4 separate regions of the Homo sapiens genome follow, and regions 1, 2 and 3 are each linked to region 4. The links come from fine-mapping of genetic effects on gene expression. A gene starts in region 4. Each other region holds a variant in brackets. All regions are shown on one strand. Distances are between the middles of the regions. Region 1 overlaps PARP11-AS1 (PARP11 antisense RNA 1). Region 2 overlaps PARP11-AS1 (PARP11 antisense RNA 1). Region 3 overlaps PARP11-AS1 (PARP11 antisense RNA 1). Region 4 holds the start of PARP11-AS1 (PARP11 antisense RNA 1).

Region 1 (4,572 bases), 30 kb after region 4:
GCATGAGGGCTTATTCCTGGTACCATGTTTCTTCTTCACATTCAACTTTGTGGTCTTTGTATTTTGTAAATCACGAAAGCAAAATATATTCATAGTAGAAAACTTAGAAGTACAGAAATGTATGAAGAAGAAAACGAAAATTAGCTCTCATCATTTGGAGATCACTACTGTTATCATTTTGGTATATGTCCTTCAAGTCTCTTCTGGAGACTTGTGTTCCATGAGGCACATGGAAGTACTAAAAATGTGGGTTAGGTAGTGTTTATATTCTACATTAAAAAACTAACATTATGTCCTGAATTATTTCCTCAACTTACATATTCTTTGAAACCCAGTTTTAATAGTTATACAACATACTATTGTGTAGATATGCCATAATTTGTTTGAATTGACTTGCTCTTGGACATTTAGGCTGTTTCCACTTAGATGTGGTGGCAGGAAGGTGGCACTAGATTTTAAAAGGGGATACTGACAAAGCAGTGATCAGTCCAGGGAGGATAACTGGACTAGTGAAGCATCTTAGAAACCACGACCTGAGAGGGGCAGTTCAGAAAACCGGGAACGTTTATTCCAGAGAAGGGCACACATAGACAACTCTGATAGCTGTCTTCAAACCCTTGAAAAGCTGTCAAATGAGAAAGGGAGTGAATTAGTTTTGTGTTGTTCCAGAGGGCTGAACTAAGACAAGTGGACAGAGGCTGAAGGGAGTCTGATTTCAGCTCTATTTCTAACAATGCCCACTGTCCACAGACAGGCTGAGCTGCTTTGTGAGGGAGTAACATCTCCATGACAGCAAGGTGCAAGCGGAGATAAGACAACCACCTGGGTCAGGAACTTGTAGAGAGGATTCCTACATGGAGTGGGAGACTGAAATAATAACCTCAAAGATGCCTTCCAATCAGAAGATTTGGTGATTCTTTCTGAGTTATCAAACTGCCTTCCTTTGACCTTGCTCACATGTAGAAATCCAAGTCAGGTAAGGAGCAAAGAAGTCAATGACATTAATCTCACTGCTAGAGTAAGCACTGTAGCTCAGAACTAGAACACACGTCTGTGTACTTGGCCTTGGCTCATATCTAGGTAGTTTTTTACAGTCAGCAAAGCACTTTGCAGATAGAACTTATAGTTTAATTCTTGTAACAGCTTTGGGAAGTAGATATTGACATCATCCCACTATTAAAGTTGAGAAAATTGAGGCCCAAAGTGCTGGAGTGACAAAACCCAGCCATCCACCTCTAGTTCCTTGCCACTTCCCAGGATGCAATGCTGCTGTTCTCTGTGTGAGTTCCTAGTGCACTCTTTGATGGGCTGTGAAGGTTCTTTGTCCTTTACACTCTGTATTTGGTGTCTCTTCGGCTACAATTTAAACACTTTAGGACAAGGGTTTAAGGGCATGTTATTTTTCTTTTGTATCCCATCCTCCCACCGCCCAGTGATCTTTCTAAAATGCACATCCGATCATGCCAGCCCCCTGTTTTGAGTTCCTCTTAGGCTTCTTGTTGCTTGGCACAGAGATGCCAACCCATTTGGGAGGGACTGCGGATCCAAGAGTGGTGCACATTTCAGAATCTTGGGAGGAAGTGAAGTACGACTTATAGCATATAGAAGCAATACAATAATTATTTGAAAAGAAAAATCAAAGCAATTTGTTCATGAATACGTTTGTTTTGCTTACCAGAGCTATATATAGGCAATACTATAATTCTCGACACTTTTAGGAGAGCACATTATTTTGAGGGTGCGTGAGACTTTCATTTTCATCAAAGAAGCCATGAATTTTGTTGTTGTTTGTGGAACCACAATCTCAAAAGTGAAAACATGCCATCTCTCATATCTCAGATTTCCATATATGTATGGGCTTGTGTCTGGACTCTCTTTCGTCTTCTGTTAGTTTGTGGCTTCTGTGCCACAGTCATGCCATCTAATTATCATGGCTTTATAAAATGTTTTGCTCTCTAGTCGGACAGCTGCCTCCACTTCTTTTCCTCCAAAATTGTTTTTGAACCTTTGTTCTGTTACATTAATTTTAATATGAGCATTTCCAGTTCCATAAAAAAAGTATTTTGATTTTGATTGTAATT[A/G]CACTTGATTAATATATTAAAATTGAAGGACAGCTGACAACCTAATGATATTGAGTCGTCCCATCCATTTATTTGGATGTGGCAGGACCTCTTGGTTGCCTACTCATCAGTACTAGCCCACTCCACTTCCTTTCTTATCTACAGAGAATGCTTCCCATATTAGAGACTGAAAATATGAGAGATTTTCCTATTCTTCCATAGGCATGGCCTCATGACTCAATCCTGGGGGACATGAGATAAAGGTTTATGGGAAAAGTTTGATAACAAAAAAATAGATGTGCAAAGAGATACTTCTTTTACTTCCTCTGGAATAGAGTCATGTGAAGAGGTCTTTACACATAGACTCTAACTATGACATCAATCCTGAAACTGGGAGAGGACAAACCTGAGATAAAAGCCTTGTTGGAGATGCTTCAGCAGAAAGATGGAAAGATCCTGAGTGTTTGATGACATCCTTGAGTTGCAGGATTAAGCAACCCTGAACCTGCCCATGCTGGGCTTCATGTAATGTGAAGTAATAAATATTACTTCAAGACACTTCCTGTTGGATATATGTTACTTGCATGTAAAAACACCTTAATTAATATACCATGTCTTGTTCTATTTCCTTCAATAAAATTTTATTATTTTCTTCACAGGCATCCTACACATTTTTGCAAATATGACATTTTTGAAGATTACATTTCTAATTGTCTATTACTGGTGATTAAGTAGGCTATTGATTTGTTTGTTGGTCTTATATCCAGCTTAGTGATCACTCATTAATTCTAATAGTTTATAAAGTGTCCTACGGACTATTATATCATCTGAAAATAAGAACAGCTTTCTTTCTGCTTTTAAATTCTTATATTATGTATTTTTCTTGCCTTATTACATTAACTTATACTTCAGATACAATATTGAAAAGGAGTAGATATGGTAAGCAGCTGTTTCCTCCTGACTCTGATAGGAATAATTATCAAGTTTCAGCTTTCAGGACCTTTCCATAGCACAACTCTAGGGGGCACCATTCATAGTACTTTGACATTATGAGTGGTTTTGTAATATATTTTTATAAATAGTCTCTGTTAAAGTGTTTGTGTATCAGTTAGGATTAGGCTTGGTTGCAGGCAACATAAAAAGACTGAATAGCAGTAGATTATACAAGATGGAAACTTATTTTTCATGCCCAAGATATCCAGAGGTATTCAGTTCAGGACACAATTAGTGTGCTGCAGTCTCAGAGATCCAGAATCCTATTACCATGTTGTTCCACCATCCTAATCGTTTCCCACCTTCAGGTGGGAAAACATACACTTTCCTCGAAAGATAAAGAAAGCACATTCAATTTATAATTTATCAAATTATGATTTTAAAAAACTCAATAAAGTAGGACTAGAAGGTGTGGCCAAGATTGCTAATTTCATCCCAGTATCTATTCTTCCTGTATCCTTGCAAAAGAAACCTTAATCTTTTATTCTGAATTTTCAAATTTATTTGCATAAATTTTTCCATTTTCTCTTATGGTTTGTTTAATCTCTATTCTAATGTGTTTTGTTTCTGTTCCCTTTTTTGTTCTTAATATTTTATTTATTTGTGTCATTTTCCTTGATTTGCCTCACTAGAAATTTTTCTTTCATTCAAAAACTCAAATTTTAACTATATGAACTTTTTGTAATTTTTTCTTAATTTATTGATTTTTACTTTACCTTTATTATTTCCTTTTTTCTACCCTTTGTGGCACCTTCTGGTTTGTTTGTTTATTTTCTCCCTTCTTGAATTGACTGCAAACTCATTTCCTTTTTATCTTTCTTTTATTTTACAGATAAATTTTAGGTTCTAATCACATCTTTTAATACTACCTTACTGCATCACACATTTTTTGTGATTATTTTATTTTCACTTCGTTTAGAATATTTTCAACTTTTCATTATTATTTCCTGTTGAATCTAAAAGTTAACTAGAAAGATATTTTTAAATTTCCAAACATGCAGTTTTTTTATTTTTTTTTAACTTCTTTAAAAAAAAACTCTCAGCCAGGCACTGTGGCACATGCCTGTAATCCCAGCTACTTGGGAGGCTGAGGCACAAGAATCACTTGAACCCAGGAGGCAGAGATTGCAGTGAACTGTAATCCTGCCTGGGTGACAGAGTGAGACTGTCTCAAAACAAAAACAGAAACAAAAAAACACCTCTCCTCTTTGCTTGCAGATGTCTAATTTAATTGCATATTGATACAAATATGCATAATATAAATTCTTTGAAAATTGCTAAAGTCTTCACAATATGGCCAATTTTGTAAATTTTCTAAGAAGAAAAATTTATAATTTTTATTGGGTACAGAGTTCTATATAAAACAGATAAATTTATAGATATTTTCTTCGAATATTCTTACAGAGTTTTTTTTGTTAGATTTCTCATTTGCTGTTAGAAGAATATTAAAAATCTACTATGTGTATAAAATGATCTGTTTTGGCCTTTTATATAACTTAAAACTATGTTGTTAGGTGCA
Region 2 (8,634 bases), 38 kb after region 4:
TATACACTTATTTGTATGAACAAATCTAAACTTTTTTGGTAATGTTATTCTCTTCTTGGTGGTCATACATATTCTGTATCTGTTAAAGTCTTCCCTCCTCTGTTTTATTACTATTTTCTTTAATTTTAACTTCACACCTCATTCCTTTTTTTTTTTTTTATGGAGTCTGGCTCTGTCACGCAGGCTGGAGTGCAGTGGCACAATCTCAGCTCACTGCAGCCTCCGCCTCCTGGCTTTAGGCAATTCTCTGCCTCAGCCTCCCAAGTAGCTGGGATTACAGGTGCCCGCCACCAAGCCTGCCTAATTTTTGTATTTTTAGTAGAAATGGGGTTTCACCATCTTGACCAGGCTGGTCTTGAACTCCTGACCTCGTGATCCACCCGCCTCGGCCTCCCAAAGTGCTAGGATTACAGGTGAGAGCCACAGCACCTGGCCCATCCCTCATTGCTGAATGAGAATTAGCTAGATAGAAATTTCCCTCAGCAGTTTGTAGGTATGGCTTCATTATCTTCTCGGGTTCAATTACCTTCTTGGTTTCTATTCTATTACACCTTAAATTTTTCATAGAAAAATGTAAGATGTAACTTCAGTCTAAGTGTTAATCTTTTTTAAGTAATCTATTTTTCCCCACTGGCAGCTTTTCCTTTTATTAATGATGCTCTGCAGTTTCATTGTGATGTGGACCTGCATCAAAGTGCACTTTTGATCTGAGTTCTCATATTTTTCTCTAACTCTGGAAAATTCTAAGCTACAATCTTTTCAAATAATGACTTCTCTCATTTCTTCCAGTCTCTTTTCCTTTCTCTGGTACTCAAATTAGAGATGTGTTGGAGTCTCTCAGTCTGTCCTGCAGGGCTCATAACTATTCTGCTCTTTTGAATTTTATATTTCTTTGTCTCTTTGTACTAGATCTGGGTAAATTTGTCAGTACTCTCAATTTACCAATTATCTCTTAAACTGTGCCTAGTCTAGAGATTATCGTAAATATTGGCTTTCTTATTTCCAGAATATATTTTTAAGTTCAAAAATTTTCAGTTGATTGCTTTCCCTGTCTACATGTGGTGGTTTGCCCCAAATTTGCCCCATCCCTTCATATATGCCCCTTTGCAATGTGACTTTGACACTCTGACTATCAATAAGTGGGGTATACCTCTGCAGCCTCAAATCTGGTCTTGTCTATGTGACTTGTTTTGAGCAGTGGCCATTGGCAAATATATAATTCAACAGAGGCTTGAGAAGTTCTTGTGCATTGGAGTTTGCCCTTTTTTGGCTGCAGGAAACCCTGCTATCACACGGAAGCAAGCCTAGGTTAGCCTCCTAAAGAATCACAAAAAGAAAGACCCTAGCTGTCTGAATGATCTGAGCTAAGTCCCCAGACGTGCAAGTGTGGCCATCCTAGACCACTGAGCTCCAGCCAAGCCAGCTTGCATCAGAAGAACTGTCCAGAAAACTCACAGAATCATAAGAAATAATGCAGGTTGGTTTTTTAAGTGACTAAGTTGTGGGGGTGGTTTGTGATGCAGCCGAAGGTAATTGATATACTGTGTTGTTCCATTTCTCCCTGTTTTGTTTCCCAATATTTGTTCACTTTTAAGGCATCTAATTCCTTTTCCACGTCTTTAGTCACCTTAAGTGTTACTGTTCAAGTCTTACTGTTCAATTTACCGTTTAAGTCCTTGACATACTGTTTCATAAAATTATTCTCAACTGGAGTGAACTATTGACTTTCTTGACTGTTTTTCTTAGCGCTTATTTTCTACATATATTTTGGAAAGTCTGCAGGCTTATTTTGAATGGAAGGCATTTTGTTTTGTTTCACTTGTTCTGCTTTTTCTTGTACCCAGTTGAGAAGTTTTGCAGATGCTTTCACCCAGCACGCTGTACTCTTGGTCCACAGCTGAGTCTCAAGATAGTTTTCTGGGGCTCCTGGCCCACAGTGATATTGAGAATATTACAGAGCCAGTCACAGAGCTGGCTTTGAATCAGCTGGCTTCATATCAGCTTTAAATTTCTAATCAGTTCCTGTTTAGAAGGCCGGGTCTTGGATCGCTGTAGTTCCACAGCTTCTGAGAACGCCTGGCTTTCAGCAGTTAGCCTGGTTCTATCGTTTCTTGAGTAGACACTTAGTTTCTATTATCCTATCCAAGCCACACTCCTTCCCATCGCTGCCTGGTTTGGGGTCCAGAGCCCTGCAAGCCCACGGCTTTACCCCCCTCATGCTTGCAGTCATCCATAAAGATGCTTTCTTCTTGGTTTCAAGTTTGGGTATTTTTATTATTATTATTATTATTATTTT[A/G]GACAGAGTATCACTCTGTCACCCAGGCTTGAGGGCAGTGGCGCGATCTCGGCTCACTGCAACCTCTGCTGCCCAGGTTCACGTGATTCTTCTGCCTCAGACTCCCGAGTAGCTGAGACTACAGGCACCCGCCACCACGTCCAGCTAATTTTTGTATTTTTAGTAGAGACGGGGTTTCACCGTGTTAGCCAGGATGGTCTCGATCTCCTGACCTCATGATCCCCCCGCCTCGGCCTCCCAAAGTGCTGGGACTGCAGGCGTGAGCCACTGCGCCCTGCTAAGTTTTGTATTTTTAGTAGAGACAGGGTTTCACCATACTGGTCAGGCTGGTCTTGAACTCCTGACTTCATGATCCACCCACCTTGGCCTCCCAAAGTGCTGGGACTATAGGCGTGAACCACCGCGCCCGGCCATGTTTGGGTATATTTTATTAGGTTTGTTTTTTCCTTGTCTATACTTTGTCTTTCATGGTCTTTTACTTAGAACACAGGGAATGTGAAGAAGTGTGAAATTAAGGGGAGCCCGTTTGACCGGAGGTCCATTTCATATAATTTTATCTAAAAATTAAATATAAGCTTAAGCTGGCATGCAAGATCTTTCACAATTCAGATCCGCTTCCCACTCCCACTGCTAGGCACCCCGCACTTCACTCACATCAAATTGCCTCCTGTTTCCTGAACACAGCACGTGCTTTTATTCTTTGGGGCACGTTCATATCCAGAACAGCCCTCCTGCCACACCTTTCATCTTCAAGACCTTCATGAAAACTCATTTCAACTGGGAAGTTGGCTCCAGATCCCACAGATTAAGTTACTTCTTCCTTCTCTGTGCAGCTGGTATTGTTACATACCTTTATGTAGTGCTCTCTGTATTCCTCTATATTCTATTTCTATATACTACTTAATGTCATCGAATTGTGAATTTTAGTACTTATAATCTCCTCCAGGTAGGCTGAGAGCTTCCTGAAGACAGACACTGTCTTTTCCATATTCATATTCTTGGAAGTTAGCAAAGGGCCTGGCACAAAGTATGCACTCAGTACACACGTACTGAGTAAATGAATGAATGATTCATATGATGTGCAAGATAAAGTAAGCATATAGTACATGTGGTTTATTGCCATATTGTTATGTCCATAACAATTGCTGTTTATCTAAGTGTCTGCTTTGGGCAACATGAATGTGCTATATTTATCCACTGCACTTAGAAATAAAGAGAAGGCAGCGGACAAATTTTTATCCTGAAGTTTGCCTTATATAACTACCATTAAGCTAACTCTGTGCAGAAGACAATTGACATACTCCAATACACCTTTTGTAAAAGTGTGGTTTTTACAACTCTTAAGGCAACATGAGACAGTCTCATTTCCTTCCTCAATTTCATGGCATTCTTCAAAAAAGAGTGGAGGAGGATGTTAGCACGAGTTGTTATCTTTCTTTTTTTTTTTTTTTTGAGACGGGAGTCTTGCTCTTTCGCCCAGGCTGGAGTGCAGTGGCGCAATCTTGGCTCACTGCAAGCTCCGTCTCCCGGGTTCACACCATTCTCCTGCCTCAGCCTCCCGAGTAGCTGGGACTACAGGAGCCCGCCACCACGCCCGGCTAATTTTTTTGTATTTTTAGTAGAGACGGGGTTTCACTGTGTTAGGCAGGATGGTCTCGAACTCCTGACCTCGTGATCCACCTGCCTCGGCCTCCCAAAGTGCTGGGATTACAGGCATGAGCCACCACACCCGGCCCGTTATCTTTCGAGCAAAGTAAAAATACGATGGAAAAAGCTCTAATATGTGTAAATGCTTTACAGTTATAACAACTCAGTTCTATCTTTCTATCAATTATAATTCTATCTCAGGAGAAGGGTTACGTTTTTTGTTCCTTTTTTTACAAAGAGGATGTAATTTTGGTACCAAATGGCATGCTGTGTGAGCAAAAATATTTGTCTAATTGTCCAACTTTTCTGGAATCCTTCAGGATACTATTTCTTCCTCAGAAACAGAATGAAGGCTCTGTGACATGGAAGAAACAAAAAGGTTTTCATTCTGGTGGGAGTTACTTGTGCTTTCATTTCCTCCAGCTCGATTGCATGGCTATGGCAAAAACAGAAATTCAACTGAGTAGAATTTCTGTTCTAAAAACATCTAAAATTCATCTCAAATCTGTATCTTTTCTGGGGAGAGAAACTAAATCCAGTCTAACAACTAATTAAACAAACAAACAAATACCCTAAAACCACAGTCTTCTCCTGGCGCCTGTCTACACCCACTCCTCCCCAGACCCCTTCCCCCATCTCCTTCCCCACTAGCCCAGTCCCACCTGGTCCAGGGATCAACGTGATGGGGCTCACTCTCTCCCACACAGGGAATGTGTTGGATAAAAGTTATATGTGGAAAATGTGGGTAAGAGAACTAGAAAATGAATATGAAGTTATCACTGTGTTTAACTTCCAACTTTGCTCTCTGATTCCAATAGTCGTCACAGTTTTCTGAAAACCTGAAATGTAACGTATGTGACGTTGCTTCTCCCTAGTGATTCAGCAAACAAAAGCCTGAAATTCTTCTCCAAATCTCCATTTTCCCCCACATTCCTAATTCAAGCTCAAAGCTTTATTTAATTTAACCACATTTAACACATAATTTTTAGTTATGTGCTCTGATTGATGCAGTATTTCTTATGGATATAGACTTTGAATCCATTGTATGACCTCGAAAAGAATTTAGAGTTTAGACAATTTAGAATTTGGAACCAATTTCAGTGTCTCCAGAAAAGATCCAAAGTTGATAGCTTGCCGCTTCTCCCCGTATGGTGAGCCATCTCACTGTGCTCAAGAGACTGCTACATCCTGGAGAAGGGGATAACACAGAGGGACACAGAGATTTTTTATTTACAGAAATAGTATCTGGAAGTGCCCTTTGGTTTACTATCTTGATCTTTTATGTTAAGCAACTACGAATGTTTGAAAGGGAGAACAAAAAAATCGCCACTAAGAGAAGGAAATATTACCTGAAGAAGGCCGGGCGCGGTGGCTCACGCCTGTAATCCCAGCACTTTGGGAGGCCAAGGCAGGCGGATCACGAGGTCAGGAGATTGAGACCGTCCTGGCTAACACGGTGAAACCCCGTCTCTACTAAAAATACAAAAAAAAAAAAAAAAAAAAAAAAAAAAATTAGCCGGGCGTGGTGGCAGGTGGCTGTAGTCCCAGCTACTCGGAGGCTGAGGCCGGGGAATGGCGTGAACCCGGGGAATGGCGTGAACCCGGGAGGCTGAGCTTGCAGTGAGCCGAGATCGCGCCACTGCACTCCAGCCTGGGCAACAGGGCGAGACTCCGTCTCAAAAAAAAAAAAAAAAAAAAAAAAAAAGAAATATTATCTGAAGAAAATGTTATCAATGACAACTCCTAGACACTAATTGTGGTACATTGCATTTCATTTCATTTCCAGTCACACTATGAGCATCTACGATGAGCTAGGTACTGTACCAAATTCTAGACCACCTTTGTTCAATAGAAATAGATGCCAGCCACCTATGTAACTTTAAAGTTTCTAGTGGACACATGAAAGCCATTAAAGAGAAATGGGCGAAATTAAATATTTGTATCATTTCGACATGTAATCAATACAAAAATGAATGAGATGTTTTATTTTTTTAATACTGCATCTTCAAAATCTGTTGTGTGTTTTTCACTCACAGCGCAGCTTAACTTGGACTCACCACCTATCAAGTGCTCGACAGCCACGTGTGCAGTGGTTCCTACGTGGAGCAGCATACATCCAGAGATGCAAATATTAATGAGGACAGTGCTAGTAACAGAGTTGCTGAGCAATCTATGTCCCCTTGTAAGAACCAGTGCCCCAGGGGAAGAAACAGAACTCCACAAGGTAGCAGTGTGGGTGTAGTACCCGCATGTGCCCATGTTATGGGAATGTAGATGGGGAGTGACCACCGCCAACAGAAGTGTGGCCATCTTGCCCGAGATGCCTGAGGACCTCCTATTTTTAGATGCTGCTGCCCAAGGCCTGTATTTCATGCTATGGCTTTTGTCATTTGAATTATCAGTAGCTGTCTCGGAGCTATTACGCTTCACTGGGCCCTGGAGGATATTGTCTTATACAGTCCACTGGGTTTTGGATATGCAGTCTGTGCCTTTCATTGCCTTCCTGGAAAATAATAACTAAACTCTTCCTCACCAGGCTTTTTGTCTTTTTTAACTTTCTCTTTGTCTAGTTTATTTTGGTATCTCTGTTACTATCATTTCTTCAATGTTTTTTTCCTGCTGATCTAACTCTTTTAGCTTGTTCAAGTTAAAAAAAAAAAAAAAAAAGGCCGGGCGCAGTGTCTCACGCCTGTAATCCCAGCACTTTGGGAGGCCGAGGCGGGCAGATCACAAGGTCAGGAGATTGAGACCATCCTGGCTAACATGGTGAAACCCCATCTCTACTAAAAATACAAAAAATTAGCCGGGCGTGGTGGCGGGTGCCTGTAGTCCCAGCTACTCGGGAGGCTGAGGCAGGAGAATGGCATGAACCCGGGAGGCAGAGCTTGCAGTGAGCCGAGACTGCACCACTGTACTCCAGCCTGGGCAACAGAGTGAGACTCCGTGTAAAAAAAAAAAAAAAAAAAAAAAGACCTTTGCCTGGGGCCTGGGGCCTGTTGAGGCATCTATGGGCATAGCTTATGCACACTGGTGACAAGAAATGTTAAACACAGAGCTAAAATATATTAAGTATTTAAAATTAGTGTACGTATATAATAAGTAAATCCTAAGATAATGATGTTGACGCAAGGGTGGGCAGAATTTGTGAGGGCAAAGCTTAAGAGTGGGAGAGTAAAGATGTGCAGGTCCCAGTCCCTTATGTCTTGCTGCGGGAACAGAAAGAGAGGCCATCATCAGAGGTACAGGATGCTCATCTTTCCATCTTGTCAGGACCATTTTGATCTCAAGGACAATTTGATATGCAGAATGCAAAAAGAATATAACTAAGATATTTTTGACAGCAGCAGAAAATGTCTTATGAACAAACCACTGAACGTCCATTTTCAGATATTATCAAGTAGTAAATCCCTTATCCTTTCCCCTTCCTTGACCCTGTTCTACTAGGTGGGAGTCAGCACAGGGTGGAGGGTGTCCTTGACATCTATACTAGGGCCACCGTACAAATAACCCCAACAACAAAATGACCACTCCAGTCCACATATGGTGTATCCCCCTTCCCACCACAGGTTAAATCCATACCATGTCTCCAGTCAGGATTGTGGCTTAACTTTTGACCTGGAGCCCACACAACTTTCACACATTATAGTTCTCTCAAGTTTAAGAAGACAACTGATTTGGTTTGGCTGTGTCCCCACTCAAATCTTATCTTGAATTGCAGTTTAGTTCCCACAATCCCTATGTGTCATGGGAAGGACCTAGTAAGAGGTAATTGAATCATGGGGGTGGGTTTTTCCCATGCTGTTCTTGCGAAAGTGAATAAGTCTCACAAGATCTGATGGTCTTATAAGGGGCAGTTCCCCTGCACATGCTCTCTTGCCTGCTGCCATGTAAGACATGCCTTTGCTCCTCCTTCACCTTCTGCCAGGATTGTAAGGCCTCCCCAGCCATGTGGAACTGTGAGTCCACTAACTTCTTTTTCTTTATAAATTACCCAGTCTCAGGTAGGTCTTCATAGCACTATGAAGATGGACTAACACAGCAATATTTTCAAAGTTAGGCTCCCAGCTGAGCACCCTTTCAGTAGTATTTGGGTTATTGGTCTTCAGCCATTGTTCTTATATTTCCTCTGCTCCTTTCCGTCTCTCTTCCCCTTTGACACCTGCTACCAGGCTGGGAGTTCCAGAAACCCCATGTGCAGAAGCTTGAGGGCCCAGGCAGGGGAGGAAACATGACAGTTAGGCAAAAATACCCCTGAGAGGTCAGGTGCTTTATTGGATGGGCACCGTGAACCTAATGCTCTGAAGGCTGGATGCCTGGGCTTCCTTCCCCATACCTAAGGCTGGATCTGAGGAGAACTGGCAAATAAGTGAGGTTTACTCTTCCCCTCTACTTTGAGCATCCTTATCTGCCCTGTGTCATCCTGTCACCCTCTAGCTAAACCTGCCAGCCTGCCCTCGTGGGGCCATGCCACCACTCTGCCAGGCCTCCCCTCCATCTGTCTCCCTCTTTGCTTGATGTCTGATAGCTGTCATGTGGTAAAGAGCAATGTGCTGATGCCTGGTGGGAGCTGGATGTGTACTCAATAACCAGGAGTGCTTGCACTTGGTGAAATAGGGAATAATATTATATTTCCATCCAATCATATGGAATGAGATCCAAATGGTGAAATGCCAGACCCCCGGACAAAAGGA
Region 3 (8,634 bases), 23 kb after region 4:
AAGTAGAATATCTCCCGGCCACGTCTCTCAGTCAGATTCTACCCCTCCTTTAAAGCCCCGTTTACTTACCAATTCTCTTTTGGGAAGTGTTTCCTAACTACTCCACATCATGATACACTCCTTTCTCTAAATTTCTTTCTTTCTTTTTCTTTTTTTAAATTTCTTTGTGACAGAGTCTCGCTCTGTCCCCCAGGCTGGAGTGTGAGATTAAATTTATGTTAGGCTAACATGAGCTTTTACTTATTTATTTATTGTAAGACAGAGTCTCACACTTTCACCCAGGCTGCAGTGCAGTGGCGCAGTCTCGGCTCACTGCAAGCTCTGCCTCCCAGGTTCCTGCCATTCTCCTGCATCAGCCTCCCAAGTAGCTGGGACTACAGGCGCACGCCACCACGCCTGGCTATTTTTTTGTATTTTTAGCAGAGACGGGGTTTCACCTTGTTAGCCAGGATGGTCTCGATCTCCTGACCTCATGATCTGCCCGCCTCGGCCTCCCAAAGTGCTGGGATTACAGGCGTGAGCCACTGCACCCGGCCCTCCTTTCTCTAAATTTCTAATGCATTCAGTGCAGATCATCTGATACTAAAAAATAATATTATCTGTGACATCTGGGTGTGGAAATGTTGAATTGTATTGTTATTGATCTGCATGTCTTGGGGGGTCCTCTCTCCCAGCTCTCCTTGCCTTTCCCACATTGAGTACTGTTCTGGGGATGCTTAATAAACATGGAGAAATACTGAATGAATTTGAAGCCATTATATATAATTTTTCTGATCAGAGCATTTGGGTAACTATGTAATACATGGTAGTTTCTCTTTCAATTTAGGAGTAACAGAAAGGTGAGCCATTGCTCAGGTAGCTTAATACTAGAAAGCATGTTATTTTAAAACGTATAATAATCCTTTATCTGAATAAAAGGATTTATTATACAATTGATAATGAAGTTCTTAAACTAGCTCACTTTCCTCCCCTGTCACCATAGATAAGGGATTTGAGAAAAGTTGCAGAATACACACAATTACTAATTGAACTCATCGATGCCAACCCTATCCTAATCTAACTTTCCCTATATTGGCCAAGACAGCCTAAATCTTTGGGTTGGAGGCCAGGTTTACATTTTATCTAAAAAGTGGCATAGTTACAGTTTTTAATAATAGAGAAACTATTTTTGTGTGTTCGATATCATACCAGATATACATCCCAGCAGACATGGATTGTTTAAATATGTGAGCGCGTGGAAAGGGAGGATTGGCCTCCCTGACCCCCAACACTGTGAAATGCTTGTTCCTAGTAAATTATAAGTTGCAATAAGTCAGTTAACACCGTAGAATCACACCATTGTCCTAATAGTAAAATAGCTGTGAGAAAAGACTTGTGATAAGATTGTAACATAGGAAAAATAATGCCTTTCCAAAAATCAACAGTGCACAAGCTCACAAAGCATGCCAGAAACAAAGCAGAGACAAGAAGTCATTCAATTGTTCAACATGTGCTGCTGAGCATCTACTGTGTACCAAACCCTGTTGAGAACATGGGCATTAGGGACGTGGAGTTATATAAAAGATATATAGGCCAGGCACGGTGGCTTACGCATATAATCCCAGCACTTTGGGAGGCCGAGGTGGGTGGATCACGAGGTCAGGAGATCGAGACCATCCTGGCAAACACGGTGAAACCCCATCTCTACTAGAAATACAAAAAAAAAAAATTTAGCTGGGTGTGGTGGTGGGTGCCTGTAGTCCCAATTACTTGGGAGGCTGAGGCAGAATGGCGTGAACCCGGGAGGCGGAGCTTGCAGTGAGCTGAGATTGTGCCACTGCACTCCAGCCTGGGGGACAGAGCAAGATTCTGCTTCAAGAAAAAAAAAAAAAAAAATATATATATATATATATATATATATAGAGAGAGAGAGAGAGAGAGAGAGACAGAGAGAGAGAGAGAGAGAGAGACCTTGCTCACAAAAAGGTCACATGCCATCTTAAGGGAGAGACAATCAAATAAACAGATCACACTCCGTGGGATGACAGGTGCTACAATAGTGATTTGTGTCTCCACTGTGGCCAGGGGCTGATACCAAAGGAGAAATGCAGGACAAAGTGAGGATCTTATTTCCTGGGCGGCATGCCCAGTCCAGCACTCACAGACACCCTTCTTCCTATTCCAGAGTCCTCCTCACACACATGAGAAGAGGCTCTAGCTTCCTTTGTGGTCACTACCTCTAGTCTTCAATCACCAAGAAAAAGTCAGGAGTTGAAAGGCCAAACCGTGTACCATTATAAGCAAAGCTGCAAACTGACAAGTCAGTCCAAGGCTTACAAAGCAGTGTTTGTACGGTGCTTTCATAGGCTTGGTTGGGGGTGATAAGTACAAATTTCCCACGCAAATATATGTAAAGCTGGTGTTTAGTAAGCTTGTAATAAACGGGAGTGTTTATAACTGCTAAACATAATGATAACACTGGAACTCTTTACAAGAAAGCAAAACTAAAAGTGTGTGAAGAAACTGCCCGGCCACGTGCTGGGCTGTCCCCATCATCAGGCCCGGGAACGTAAACTCCTGCACCTTAGCTCCCTCGTGATCGACAGTCATCCAGAAAGCATATCACCTAAGCCACATCTCCCCCTTTTCCCAAAGCCCTGTCAAAGCTCGTCACTTTGAGTCAAGGAAAGCACTTGCCCTGGGAAGTCCTTCCTGTGAAGCCACCCTTATCCCTGCCATGCCTGAGCCCCAGACCCTCAACCCACCTCAGCCTCCGTCCAGTTACAAATCCCAGGCCAGTCCATCGCCTGGACTCTGGCTTCCCCACCCAGTTTCTCCTCTTCTGCTCTGCCTTGTCACCTCCTTTCCTCCTTGCTCTCCTGCTGCATCGCTCGGGAAGAAAGCCTGCTCCCCGAGAGGCTGGGCAGCAGAGGTACGACCATGCTCTCCTTCTACCTGAGAAAACCCAGGCCCAGGGAAGCCTCGCCCCTTGTCCAGGGTCACATTTCTTGTAAGTATTACATACTAAATATGTAATACATGGGACATGCAGGGACTTGAAGCCATTTCATTCTACTGTGAATAGTAGAATATTATGTTTCAGGGTCTAGACCCGAAGTCATCAGCTCCAAGAGGAGACTCTAAGATTTCTCATGGTGACTAGAAGCCTGTTAGAACACCTCCTAGAGACACACAATTGCATCCAGACTTAGAGGCATGTGGGAAAAGTAAATAAGAAAGGGAATGAGGAAAGTAACACAAGATATCATTTATATGTTCTGCTTCAAATTGTCTTTTCTGAGGGGTTTTTAGGACACAATACATCACACTTCCCTGTCCCTTGTTGTATTCAATCTTTCCAAAAGCTATGGCAGTAATGAAGGGTCTGGAAATGTCCTTCCACCTGCCATGTGAAGCTTCCAGCTGAGCTACAAGGAAAACCTAGACAGACAATCTTGAGAACCACGTGGGTGCACCATCACCTCCAGAGTCTCTTGGCCCTTTCTCTCCGTGATCTCGTCCACTCCATGAGTCCTTCTGATGTCATGCTAGAACTCCCGTAAGATTGTGTGCTTGGTCCTTAGAGCCTCCGTATGTTTTTCTTTCATTCCATAGGAGCACTATTTCAATGGGTATGGCCTCACACCCTCCTCCTGTCTCCATTTCCTTTAATCACATCTTAAGCCCCTGCAATTGGGCATCTGCCCAAACTCCTCTTCTGTACCTGCTCCCTCAATAGCCAGTGACCTTCTTCCCAAATCTGGTGATATTTCCAAGCCTCCCCTCTTCCCAGGCCTCCCTGAAGCAGGTGGCCCAGCTGATGTCTCCTTCCTTCAGGAAATTGTCTACATCTGGTCCTCTCTTGCATGCTCAGTTGTATTCCCTTCTTTAGGGAAGAAAGTAGGCTATGAACTAGCAAAGCAATGCCCTATTTCTGCCTTTGCTGCTTCCTGCTCCACCCTGACACATACTCTCACTCTCTCTCACTCTCTCTCTCTCTCTCCCTCTCTCTCTCTCTCTCTCTCTCTCTCTTTCTCTCTCTCACTGCTCCCTAAGTCCCTGAGTGTCGGTGTCCTGCAAGTCTCACTCCTTGGCCTGCGCTCTCCTCATTCTCAATAGGCTCATCCAGTCTCATGATTTTAGCCTTCAGCCCTGATGGCAACTCCCAGTCTTTGCTCCTAACTGTGACTCTCAGGTGTACTCTGTCTCATGGTTTGTTTATTTATTTATTTATTTATTTATTTATTTTTGAGACAAGGTCTTACTCTGCCCCCAGGCTGGAGTACAGTGGCTCAATCATAGCTCACTACAGTTTGGATCTCCCAGGGTCAGGCGATCCTCCCATCTCAGCCTCCCAAGTAGCTGGTACCACAGGCATGTGCCACCATACCTGGCTAATTTTTTTAATATTTTGTAGAGATGGAGTCTCAAGATGTTGCCCAGGATGGTCTCGAATTCCTAAGCTCAAGCTATCCTCCCACCTCCGCCTCCCAGAATGCTGGGATTATAGGTGTGAGCCACTGCACCTGGCCCTGTCTCATGGTTTAAAGCATTCCTCCACTTGATGTCTTTCGGATTCAGTTACAAGGAGGGATAAATACACTCCTTACCAACCAAAAGCTCCATGAGCCTTTGGACCTGGCCCTTTGAGTTCTATCCTGCCACACCCCATTTTTGGCTTGTTGAGGAGACCAGCTATTGCTATCGGCTTCTGTCAATCGACTTACCAGTCACTCTGTGTCTCGCTTTTATACCATTACCATGGATGAGGTAGCTCTCTTCCTGACAAAGACCACCCTGTCCATGTGCGCCCCAGATCCCACCACTATCCTAGCATTCTCCCCTCTCTTCTGAATCATCAGCTCTCCTCTCTATACGGGATGAATCCCATGAGCCTTCAGACCTGCTCCCATCTTACACATGCACGCACGCACACACACACAGGACACCGCTCTTAACCCCACTTCCTCCCGTTTCTCTCCTTCTCTACACAGCAAAACTCCTCTAAATAGTTGTTCTTGCTCACCATGTCAGACCTCTCTTCTCCCACATCCTCTGTTGGAGTCATTCTAATTAGGACTTCACAGCACCCAGGCCCTCCTACTCTCTCTCCGATGCACAAACCACCAGCGCCAAAACTGTTCTTATCAAGGTCACCAATCATCTCTTCACCATGACATCCTATGGTCATTTCTAAGTCCTCATCATCCTGGACACCTCAGGTAACACATGGCACAGTTGATCTCTCCATTCTTCTGGAATACATTTTCCTCACTTGGCCTCTGAGAAGACTTCCCCCCCAGGTTTTCCTCCAGCTTTCCTGGATACTCCTTTCCAGTTTCCTTGCTGATTCCATCTCAGGTCCCCACCTTGTAATGTTAGAATGCCCAGAGCCCAGTACTCCGATCTCTTCTTTTTTCTAATTCTACTCTCTTCTTTGGTGATCTCATTCGGTCTATGAGTTTTAAACATAATCAATATGGTTTTGATGCCCATGTTTATAATTACACATGCACATGCCCAATTGCCTATTCACAATCTCTATTTGAATGTTTAATCGGTATCCGAATGTATCAAAAAACAGAACTCCTGGTCTGGATGCCAAACCTGCTCCTTCCACAGCCTTTCCCAGCTCGGTTAATGGCCATGGGTCTGGTTGCTCAAGCTTAAACCCTTAGAGCTTCCTCTCACATGTGCTCTCTCTCTTTTGATGCCTCTGCAAATCCTGTTCACTTTACCTTCAAATTATGTGCAGAATAGAACCATGTTCTGCTGTTTCCAAGGCTACTCCCTAGCCCAGCCACTATGTGACAGCCCCCTAACTGCTCTCCCGCTTCTGCCCTAGCTGCCTACATACTATTCTCAACAGAATTCTCAGTGTTATCCTGTTCAACTATAAGCTTGATCATGTCACTTCCCTGCCTCCCAGGATAATAAGAGCAAAAATCAGTATTCAACACGATGTCCTGCAAGTCCCTCCACAGTATGGGCGCTTGTCACCTGTCAGACTCCATGTCTAATGGCTGTCTCTTTTGCATACTCTGCTCCAGCCATCCTGGCCTCTGCTCGCCCTAAAACATGCCGGGCACAGTCCACCTCGGGGTCTATGCACTTGTTCTTCCCTTCACCTGGAATGCTTTTCTTCAAAAAATCCCCATGGCTTGCTTTCTTACTTCCTTCAGGCCTGAATTGAAATTTCACTTTCCCTGTGAAGAGGCCTTGATTACCTTCTTTAAATACCCCCCTCTCCCAGCCTCAAAGTTTCATAACCATCAGTTACCCTGCTTGATTTTTCCCACAGTCTTATTACCAGTTGACCAAAGATATTTACTTACTTGGTTTTTTCACTTGTCTATCTCTCCTTACTGAAATGTAAGTTCCATGATGGCAGGGATTTTTGTCTGTCTGGTTCAATTCTGAATTCTCATTGCCTAAACTGTGTC[C/T]GACATGTAGTGTGTGCATAATAAATACATATTCACAGAGTGACTGAATGAATGGATGGATCTCTCCCTTCAAAATGATATTCAGATTCCCTCTATAGTCTTCATTCTAACTACCAGCCCCCATTCTGGACTTACCCCTTGAGGTCTGTGTTTCTGTGATGTTCTATGCACTGGGTATCCCTCTAACACCAGAACCAAGATGAAAAAACAGATTTCCTGATCCTCAGCCTAGGTTCTGTCCACTCTATGATCTACGACGTGCATATTTTCAATGGTCTGTTAGTGGTGTCTAACCACGAAGGCAGGCTTAGCCAGACATTCTGATCGTGCCCAAGAGTCCTATTTAGAAGGTCATATGAACAGGCTCTCTTGCCCATACATACAGGCTTTAAAAAGTTGAATGATGTTCTTGTTAGACTCTGTGGTTTAAGAAACACAGTGCAAAAGGGAGTCCATTATTGGGAATGGAGGATCCTGGGACAAGCTGAGTGAAACAAGCACACTCTTTTTCGGAACCTCTTAAGATTCTGGGAGGCCCTTTCCAGGGGAATAATAAGGCCGAATTGAGTGCAAGAGACATATCTTTGATTTTCATAACCTTTGCTCCCTTCTTTTCCATATGGCAGAAGGCTTTCTCTCAGAAACCAGGAAAAACAATGGAGTATCAGCATAGCCTAAGGCAGTGCAAACTCAAACATCTAACAGGACCAAGCGGGGAATATAAATGAGGGGGAAGGTGGGGATTGGGGCAACCTGGAGAGGGCAGATCGCCACTACTCCACTTGGCCAATGGTTTCCATGGGGGAAATGTAGGGCCAGAGGTTCTCAAAAGTAGCTAGGATTCTAGAAGTGAACGTAAAATCTCCTAAGTTATAAATGTCGGCAATAAATCTAAACATTTTTTTAAATGCCATAGGGTCCAAAAAACACATCTTTGGGTGGAATGGTTTTGTGAGCTGCTTACCTATACCCGTAATGTAGGAAAAAGCACATGAGCAGTCCAATCACACTGCCTGAGTTTGACCCTTGGTTCTACCCACTGGTTTACAAAGTTACTCTAAGTCACTTAACTTAAGCTTCATTTTTCTCCATCTCTAAATCAGGACAGTGCTTCCAGGACTGACATGAAGATTAAATGAAAGAACGTAGTTGCTACTCAATATTAATTGTCCTTGTTTTTTGGATCTCTGCTCCCTCCCTTTTTTCTCATTGCACAATGAACTAGAAAAAACAGTTCCTCCACATTCTTATTTAAAGCAAACTAAGCAACGCTTTTTATCATTTGTCAGATTTTTTTTTACCATGATGAGCCTAAATACACTGTACTGGTTTCTAATCAGACCTCATTTGCAGCTGTGATTTTTGTGGTGGTTGTTGTTGTTGTACTATTTTGTTTTGTTTTGTTGTTTTGTTTTCAAAGAATGAGAGGACAGAAGAAGCATTAAAGCAACATTCTTTCCAAAATTAAATTCTGGCAATACAGTCTCCAGTGATCCTGACTAGGAAGCAAAGGGAAGACCCCGAGCCAGCAGGGGAAGCCCTCCAGCACTCTCAGGTTTTCAAAGAGCCTTTACAAAAGCACTAAGCAGGGCACATCACCGGAGAAGAAAAGCAAAGAGTGTCACAGGCTTGTAGCCATAGTGTTAGCAAGGCTGGGGCTCAGAATGAGCTGAGACTTGCAAAAAATGCTCAGGAACAGCAAAAAGAGCTTTGTGCAAGTATATTCTGAGCAGGAAGAATAGGGAAGGGCCAGATCCTGTGCTTGGGGCAGATGGTGTAATGCTAGCAGATGACAGATACAAAGCAGAATTATGCAACTCCTACTTAGCTTCCATCATCTCTATCTCTCAGAATGATCTTCAAACTGGAAAGAACAATATAAACACTGCAAAGAAGCAATTGCAGCCCTAGTTATGAAGCTCTTTAGAAAATGAATACCTGGGCTCTCTAAATAAGCTTAGATCTCCAGGCCCTGACAAATTCCATCCCTGGGGACTGAAAGAATTTGTAGATTTAATCATAGAATGATTGTCAGTAATCTTTCAGGAATCTCAGGAGTGATGCCAGAAGATTAGTGATGGGCAACTGTCCGAGTTGTCAAAAGGGGAAATATGTAGGTTTGGGGAACTTTGCACTGTTGAGTTTAACTTTGATCCCCAGCAAACTGTAAGCTGCATTATTAAGGAGTTAGATTACAATCGCTTTGAAAAGG
Region 4 (8,634 bases):
CTAGCCCTTCTTGTTTTCTCTCAGAATCTTCAAAAGACGGTCCTCAGGGATTATGAGATATTTCACAGGCATTTTCAGGGGCAAAGTAATGAAATAAATTTGTCTACATACATTTTGAAAAGTTGAAATGTAAGATTAATAATTTGTACGAAAATCACTTTATTTTCTTTAAAGTTACCATTCACTATAATATCCCATTATATTCACTCTCTGTTGATACATTCATATCAGCCATAGTTAGCATTTACTTAAATATAGTACTATAAAACTCAAGTAAACTTTCAGATTATTTTTCACACAAAGCACAAAGTCCATTTGCTTTGTTAATAAGGACAAAGAAGAAACCAAGAGAAAAGACGCATTCCTCAGCTAAAACAGGTAAAAATTCTTGATACTGCTGAGAAGCTAGTCAATTCAAATTTAATGCCTGAGAAGAAACAAGCTATTGACCAAAATTCTTTATTAAATGATTCTACTGGATGTCATATATTATCATGCTATATTATCATGCAACACAATATAGAAGAGCAATTACTGTCATGTTGAGTGCTTTAGCATATATTTTGTTTTACAATTGGACAAACTACCTGTGGAGAAAATATAAATCAGTCCTTGACACATATACAGTATATAAGGTAAAAGTACTCAACAACTTTTTGTTCTACATATCAGTGAAAACTTATAGTACAGGGAAGACAGTTTTTATTTAGACAATGATACTTTTGTGAGCTATGACATAAGTTGAAAAAGGTGCCACACATTCAAAATTGACAGAGCATGAAGTATACAAATAGCAAAAACATACACTGTTATGTTACTAAAAGATTCTTTATATGAAACAGGAGTCAACAATATGCCTCCTGATTATAACTGAGTGTTGAAGGAAATAATGGAAATTAAACATCATCAAATATTGACTATTCAGAGTATGCGCTCTCAGATGTTGCAGAAGGAAATGGCAGCGTTTGCAAGATTATTCTTCCCACGCAAGTTTGCTGGCTGTCAAGGAAAAAAGGTGCTGACAAGTTTCTGAAATGAGGGATGAGATTTTAAAAAACAAAAAAATTCTTCATAATGCTGACAATACCAAAAAGTAATTCTATGTTTTCTAGAGGCCTGCTTAAGTGGAGTATAGCAGAGATATATCTAGAATTTTAAATAGCGTGAACCTACTACTTCAGGGCCAAAATACCCTGATTTTTAATGCTGAGAATAAAATACCATATTTTTCAAAGTCACCAAGCTATGTTGCAAATGGCTCAATTGCTAGGATGTGATTCCTTCCCAAAACCTGATGGTTTTCTTCACTTCTTAGAGTGAGACTGATTACACTATTGTGTGTATAAAGAACATGACTAAATGTTAAAACAAAACATGGGAAAATACTTTCCAGATACTGAAGAAGTCAAAAAATGACTTAAGAATCCATTTGTTACTATCTTCCAAACATTCAGGCTGGTTGAAACATTCACCCTAATATTACAGGCTTCTCAATAACGCAACTGAAAGAGCACAAGATATAATCTTCAGGGAGAAATCTTCCGATAATTTTTCAGTCTGTATTTGACCTTGATATTCCTAAACATCTGACAGCGCCAGCAAACACAAGTTGCAATTCCTGACAATCTATAATTGTGGCACAACATTTCCTAATTTAGTAGACATACAGAGTAATCAAAATGTGGTCTAACCTACATCTCAAACTATTATCAAATTAGATATAAGTACTTTGTAAGAAGCTGCAAAAAAAAAATCATCCTTCTCAATGATAATAAAAACATTAATTTCTAAAATACTGTTTTATTGGGGGCCAGGCACGGTGGTTCACGACTGTAATCCCACCACTTTGGGAGGCCTAGGCGGGTGGATCACTTGAGTCCAGGAGCTTAAGACCAGCCTGGCCAACACAGTGAAACCCTGTCTCTACTAAAATACAAAAATTAGCCAGGTGTAGTGGTGCACATGTGTAGTTCTAGCTACTCAGGAGGCTGAGGCACAAGAATCACTTGAACCCAGGAGGCAGAGGTTGCAGTTAGCCGAGATCATGCCACTGCACTCCAGCTTGGGTGACAGACTACCTATAGACACTGAGGCTCAAATTTCAATTTCCAGCCCAGCCTTCTTCTCTGAGCTCCAGACTTACCTCCCTAACCAACTGCCTTCCAAACTTTACTACCTGATGCTTCATAGGCACATTAAACATAGTGAGTCCAGAACCAAACTCCTGTTATCTTCCATATGGCTCAGTGAAAACATCTTATTCCTGGCTGCCCATGCCAGAAAGCTAAGTCATCATCTAAGATGCAGCTTGAATTGATCTCCTCTCTCCCCACTTAGTAGTCACCTTCATAGGTGACTTCATACTTTCCCCACATAGTCCAAGTCACCTTCGTCTCTACCCTGGACTACACTATAACCTCCTAATTAGTCTTCCTACAGCCCCTTATCCCCCTCAGTATTTTCTTTTGCTGCTAGAACAAATTACCACAAACGCAGTGGCTTAAAAACAACACTAATTTATTTTCTTACATTTCTGAAGAAATCTTACATGCATCTCAATGGGCTAAAATCAAGGTGAGTTTGATTCCCTTCTAAAGGTTGTATGAGAGAATCTATTTCCGTGGTTTTTCAAGCTTCTAGAAGCTACCCACATACCTTGGCTTGTGACCTCCTTCCTTCATCTCCAAAGTCAGCCATGTTGTATCTCTTTGACCATTCTTCCATAGTCACTCCATGTCTTTTGTCCCCATGTTCTACTTTTAAGGACCCTTGCGATTACTTTGGGGCCCCCCTGGATAATCCAAGGTAATCTCTTTATCTTAAGGTCAGCTGATTAGCTAATTACCTCCCTTTTGCCATGTAACAACATATTTACAGATTCTGGGTATTAATATGTGGATATCTTTAGGAGGCCATTATTACGTCTACCATATTTTCTAATACATAAACTCATTTTCCACACATCAGCCAGAGTAATCTTTTTAAAAACATAAATATGTTCATGACACTTCCTTCAATGTGTTACCACTCCTCTAAGGATAAAGTTCAAAATCCTAAACATGTGCCTCAAATCCATGCATGGCCTGGTTCCTACCTCCTGGGCTTGTCTTCTGGTGCACTGTGTCCCAGCCACATAGGCTTCTCTCTTTTTCTCAAGCACCAAGCTCCTTTCTTTCTCAGGATCTTTGCTCACACTATCTCTGCTGTCTGAACAGCTCTCCCCACCTTCCAGCCAACCTTTACCTGGCTAACGCTTGCTCAATCCTTCAGATCTCTATAAAAGTTACTTTCACAGGGTGGCCTTTCCTGATTGCCCAGTCTAGTATTAGCTCCCCCTACACTGTCATAGTACTCTTTTTCTTTCATATCTTTTTATCACAATTTAAATTAAATGTATTTGCATAATTATTTGTTTAATATCTGCCTGCCTGCACCAGACTGCAAACCCATAAAGGCTGGAGCCTAGTCTGTTCTGTTCACCACTGTAAACCCTGGGACTTCGCACTAACTAGCTTATAACAGGTGCTCAATAAATAAGTGAGTGACATTACATGTTATTATATGACCAGCAGGCAGGTAGAGTATATGCAGTGTGGATATGCTGGACAAAGGGATGATTCGTGGCCCCAGGCAGGATGGAGCACAATGGCATGAGATTTTATCACACTACACAGTACAGTATGCAACTTAAAAGTTATTAATTGTTCATTTCTGGAATTTTCCATTTCATATTTTCAGACCGCAGCTGACTTCTGGTAAGTGAAATTGTGGTAAGTGAAACCAGGAAAGCGAAACTAAAATAAACTAACAAATTACTAGAGAAACCCACACGTAGAATGTTGATTTTTAAAACCAAATTGCGCTTACTGATATCATTCATATGCTTATAGGAAGAAAAACTATTAGTAGTAATAAAATACAGTAGCAGTAAGACAAATATGTCTTATTTGGGTGGCAAAAGAAGAATGTGAGATGATCTGTGGAGGATTCCCCACTTTTAACAAAAGTCAGCCTGCTCTGCTGAAATTAGCAAAATCACACAGGTGATTTCAAAGAAAACCCATTGCTTACAAAGAAATGAGATAATGATATAACAAATCAAGTATATAAGACATTCATTAATGCCTTTATAATTCTCACAAACACACAAATAATCCAACAGCAAATTCTGATGTATGTGTGACGCAGGAGGGAAAATTCATAGTAGGAGCAAAGAATTATCTTTAGTCCTTGCTGGTACAACCACCATCATGAATTCAACAAATATTTATTGAGTGCCTACTATGTGTCAGGTTCTGTTCTCTAGTTGAAGATACTATAGGAAAAATAACAGAGAAAAACCCCTGTCCTTGTGGATCTTACAATATAGTGAAAGATTTAAAACCTTGAGTAAGACATATACTTGGGTGGCTAAAGGGTTTGTTATGGAAAAATTAAGAAGGACTGATAACAAAAAGGGAATAATAGCTACATAAAGATATAAATACAAAATGAAGGTTGTTGATGACAGATAGTGAAACTGAATATATAAGCAGAGAGCACATTCTCATTATTCTAAATTATTTTTGCTAAAATCAAATACAAGTAATTACTTTCCTCTAATGCAGCTTGAAGAGAGTATTATACGTATGAATCGAAAATACTAAGATGATGACTATTGTTATATGATGCACAAGAAGGAACCATAATGTGCAACTACCAAATCCAGACCAACAGACTAGTTTCTACTGGATAAAAACTTAACTTAAAAACATAGGGAAATGTACTGATAAACTTTCTAACTTATCTGGAAATATATTCCAGAAATGAGAGGGGAAGAATACTGATTATAGGAAATTATTGCAAATATGGAAATTAGGGGTTATTAAAGTAAATTTATGCAGTTATCTCAGCATAGGAGTAGTTTCTTATGTTTCATACACAATTATGCATTGCATAAAAGCTTTCAGTCAACCATGGATCGCATATACAAGTGGTCCCAAAGATTGTTAACACTTTATTTTACTGTATCTTTTCTATGTTTAGATACATAAATACTTTCCATTGTGTTACGAATGCCTACAGTATTCAGTACAATACTATGCTGTACAGATTTCTAGGTTAAGAGCAATAGGCTATTCCATATAGCCTTAGGTGTGTAGCAGGCTTATGAAAGTACACTCTATGACGTTGGCACAATGAAAAAAATCACCCAGCAATGAACTTCTCAGAACATATCCCCATTGTTAGGAGGCGCACGACTGTATTTAGTCCAACAACTTGCTGAAATGTGATTCTACCATTTTTCCAGTCAACTCCTAAGTTTTAAATACCATACATCTGCCACCTTACCAGGCAGTTTCAACCATAACAACAGAAGAATACTCTTGGCAAATAGATCCCACTCTCTGAGGGTTGTGTTGGGGCTCAGAAAATACTACCCCGAAGTATGACACTTTGGCATGCTGAATACTTTGAACTAAAAGAGATTGGAAGGCCTCAGAAGCAGCCTCGGAAGCAGTCTCTCCCTCTGATCTCCTGCCCTTCTGTCTCCTGCCCATCTTTCGTCCCAGAAGTGAGTCACAGAAACCAGAATTCTTCCCCAAGGTGAGTGATAGAAACTAGGATCCCTCTCCTACAAAGCAAGCCATAAAAACTGGAACTATTAAGCTTTCCCTGCCATTGTCTATAGGAACTGGCCATAAAGAAATTCTCTAATCTACCTTGCCTGATAGTAGGTCGCTAAGACCCTCATTCCAGAAGGGACCTTCCTCCTCCGTAGGAGGAAGAAATGATACACAGAGAGGCCAAGAAGAATCTGAACAAACAGACCTTGCTGGGCTTCCTTCCTCAGTTTATTAACATTAGAGTATATCCTTTGTCCAGTCACATTTTTACACAGTTGTCTATTCTTCATGGGTCCTACGCATAAAAATAGAGATCTCCCTGGTCTCTGAAGTGCCTGGTGGTGTAAAACTTTGATTAGATTTGCTCTGCTTTTACCTTGTTAACCTATCTTCTGTTTTAAGGAGTGGTGGCTGTGATCCTTACAATGGGTGGTGAGGAAAGGTACTAAAGTTTTCGGCCCCTACGTTGCACTTTAAATAAATAAATGTATAAAAGCAAAGTAGACAAAGACACATGAAGTCATAATGAAAATACCAGAGTCAGCCAAGGAAGAAGGCAGACTTGCAGTTGAAATGCTCCAGATCACTTTGTCCACCGAACGAAAACATCTAAGAACATACAGTCCATACTCCAAGTTTTAAACGACTGTCCACCAAGAAGGGAAAAGGAGAACTGATGGCTCCTCTTAGGCCCATTCAAGACAAGGGGGTCCCAATTCCCTTGCTTTAGACTGGTGGGACTGGCAGGTAAACCTGAGGCAAATGACTGACTACAGGTTCCAAGGCCAGTTACTCCAATTAGAAAGCAAAACACAAAGTTTCAAAAAACAGTGAAGGCAGTCGGGAGGCTGAGGCACGACAATCGCTTTAACCCGGGAGACGGAGGTTGCGGTGGGCCGAGATCACGCCACTGCACTCCAGCCTGGACAACAGTGCGAGACTCCGTCTCAAAAACAACAACAACAACAAATGGTGAAGGGATGAGGCTGAAACATCACGGGAAGTAAAATAAATAATTGTAACAAGAAAACAATAAAGCATTGGAGAATCCACCCAGGCACTTCCACTGCTTAAAAAGGTACAGACTACAGAAGCCAAAAGGCCCGGGAACTCCGGTCCCGGAACTCAACACCCAGACTGAAGCGAGCGCGGGGAAGCAGTTCCGGTGACCCCCTCCCGCCCCTCTCTCATCAACCCCGCCCCCTGGGCCCGCCCCGTCCCGCCCGGCTACTCACTGGATTCGCTTCCCACATAACGGTGACAAAATCGAGCGGAGAGAGCCTGTGGGAAGGGGCTAGCCGCGGGGCCTGGGTGTTGGATTTTTTTTTTTCCCGCGGGTCCCCGGGAGCGAAGGGACGGAGATGCAACCTTTACGAAGGCCTTCCTCCTCCCCCTCCCTGTCACAAGCCAGCGTTTACAGACCACCCAACCTCCCGACTTCCGCCCGACGTTGGCCAGTCAGATCTGTCTCCGCCCCACTCCTACAAGCTCGCCCCGCCCCTGCACGCTTATCCATACGCGCGCGGGCGGTCGTCCTGGGCGGGGCTTGCGAGTCTGTGTCTGACGAAGGAGTTTAAAGGGTTTCTGGTCCAACTGTATCACCCAGTGATCTTAAAGCCACGGCTGGCTGTATTTCTTTCCTATGAAACAAATTTTTATTGATCACCGTGTAACGACCAAGAGTCACACAGGCCTGGCAATGGCATTTGGGAGAAACTTCATAATCTTTCAATATCTTCATCCTCAAAATGGAGATGGTAGTAATATCTCCCTATGAGTGAGATTATTGAAAGCATTTAGCACAGTATTTGGCACACAGAGTTCAATAAGTGACGGTTATTTGCTCACAAGGGAACCTTTACATACTATCCCTGCCCTCAAGATTTTATAATCTAGAAAAGAAAGCAAAAAGTAGTTTAGAAAAGTTAAAAAGTGCAATATGATTTATAGGTAATATGGTGAATAGAGAGTGCTATGCGAGCATATTTACCTAGAGTAGAGTGTCAGGAAAGCTCCCTCAAGATGTTTAAAACCATGAGGATGTATTCCTACTGATGTAAAGAGAGCTAACAGAGTGAAATAATCTTCCATGCAACAAAGGATCTACCCCATAGGAAATGAAAATTAAACAGCTCATTATAGATCCTTCTGGACTTTTCTATGCCTCTACACATTGAAAAAAATGTAATCAAAGAATACCTATAGATTTAGAACCTGATTTTTTTTTCACTTTAAAGATTATGTGGCTATCCTTCCATTCCATTAAGTTTAAATCTGTTTCATCATTTTATTTATTTATTTAGGCAGAACCTCGCTCTGTCGCCCAGGCTGGAGCGCAGTGGCGCCATTTTGGCTCACTGCAACCTCCGCCTCCCGAGTTCAAGCGATTCCCGTGCCTCAGGCTCCTGAGTAGCTGGGATTACAGATGTGCGCCACCACGTCCCGCGAATTTTTGTATTTTTAGTAGAGACAGGTTTTCGCCATGTTGGCCAGGCCAGTCTCGAACTCCTGACCCCAGGTGATCCACCTGCCTTGGCCTCCCAAAGTGCTGGGATTACAGGTGTGAGCCATCTTGCACCCGGCCATATTTTAAAGTAGACTCATGGCATTCCATAACTTATGCGTATACTACGTACACACAAATAGACACACACATTTGAAATAATCTACTGAATAGACGTTTGAGTGGTTTTCTATTTTTCACTATCCCAAAAAAATCCTTCAACAGGCATTTCTTCACATTTGTCCATTTACTTCTTGGAATTAATTCCTGGAAATAAAATAGTTTACTAAGAGATTATTTTTGCCAAATGGTTGACCAGTTGCCCCCATGTCATTTAGTGAATATTCTTTCCTCACTACTTTGAAGTGCCACTGTTAATTACAACCTAAATTTGCATATACATATACATAGGTATACATACACGTATATATCTGTTTCTGAACATTCTCCTCTATTAATTATCTGCTTATTCCTAAAATATGCCACAGTTATAATCATTACATATTTAATATATTTGCCTTTTCA

The links. PIP is the estimated chance that this variant, and not a neighbour inherited with it, causes the effect.
Region 1: its variant is fine-mapped to the expression of PARP11-AS1 in whole blood (INTERVAL, PIP above 0.99).
Region 2: its variant is fine-mapped to the expression of PARP11-AS1 in whole blood (TOPMed, PIP above 0.99).
Region 3: its variant is fine-mapped to the expression of PARP11-AS1 in T cells (TOPMed, PIP above 0.99).

The regions. Positions count from the first base shown.
Region 1 is chr12:3,898,212-3,902,783 of GRCh38, forward strand. All of the region lies in intron 1 of PARP11-AS1 (PARP11 antisense RNA 1), which reads left to right. Among named protein-coding and RNA genes, the nearest start is that of PARP11, 27 kb to the left of the region's middle. The variant A/G (reference allele first, on the strand shown) is at 2,082.
Region 2 is chr12:3,903,905-3,912,538 of GRCh38, forward strand. It overlaps PARP11-AS1 (PARP11 antisense RNA 1), which reads left to right. Exons shown (of 2, transcript NR_183432.1): 2 at 5,980-6,478. Among named protein-coding and RNA genes, the nearest start is that of PARP11, 35 kb to the left of the region's middle. The variant A/G (reference allele first, on the strand shown) is at 2,297.
Region 3 is chr12:3,888,876-3,897,509 of GRCh38, forward strand. All of the region lies in intron 1 of PARP11-AS1 (PARP11 antisense RNA 1), which reads left to right. Among named protein-coding and RNA genes, the nearest start is that of PARP11, 20 kb to the left of the region's middle. The variant C/T (reference allele first, on the strand shown) is at 6,423.
Region 4 is chr12:3,866,371-3,875,004 of GRCh38, forward strand. PARP11-AS1 (PARP11 antisense RNA 1) reads left to right here and starts at 3,802. Exons shown (of 2, transcript NR_183432.1): 1 at 3,802-5,586. It overlaps PARP11 (poly(ADP-ribose) polymerase family member 11), which reads right to left and starts at 7,029. Exons shown (of 8, transcript NM_020367.6): 1 at 6,842-7,029. The coding sequence starts at 6,859. RefSeq lists a silencer at 6,697-6,806 and enhancers at 7,478-7,998, 7,999-8,518.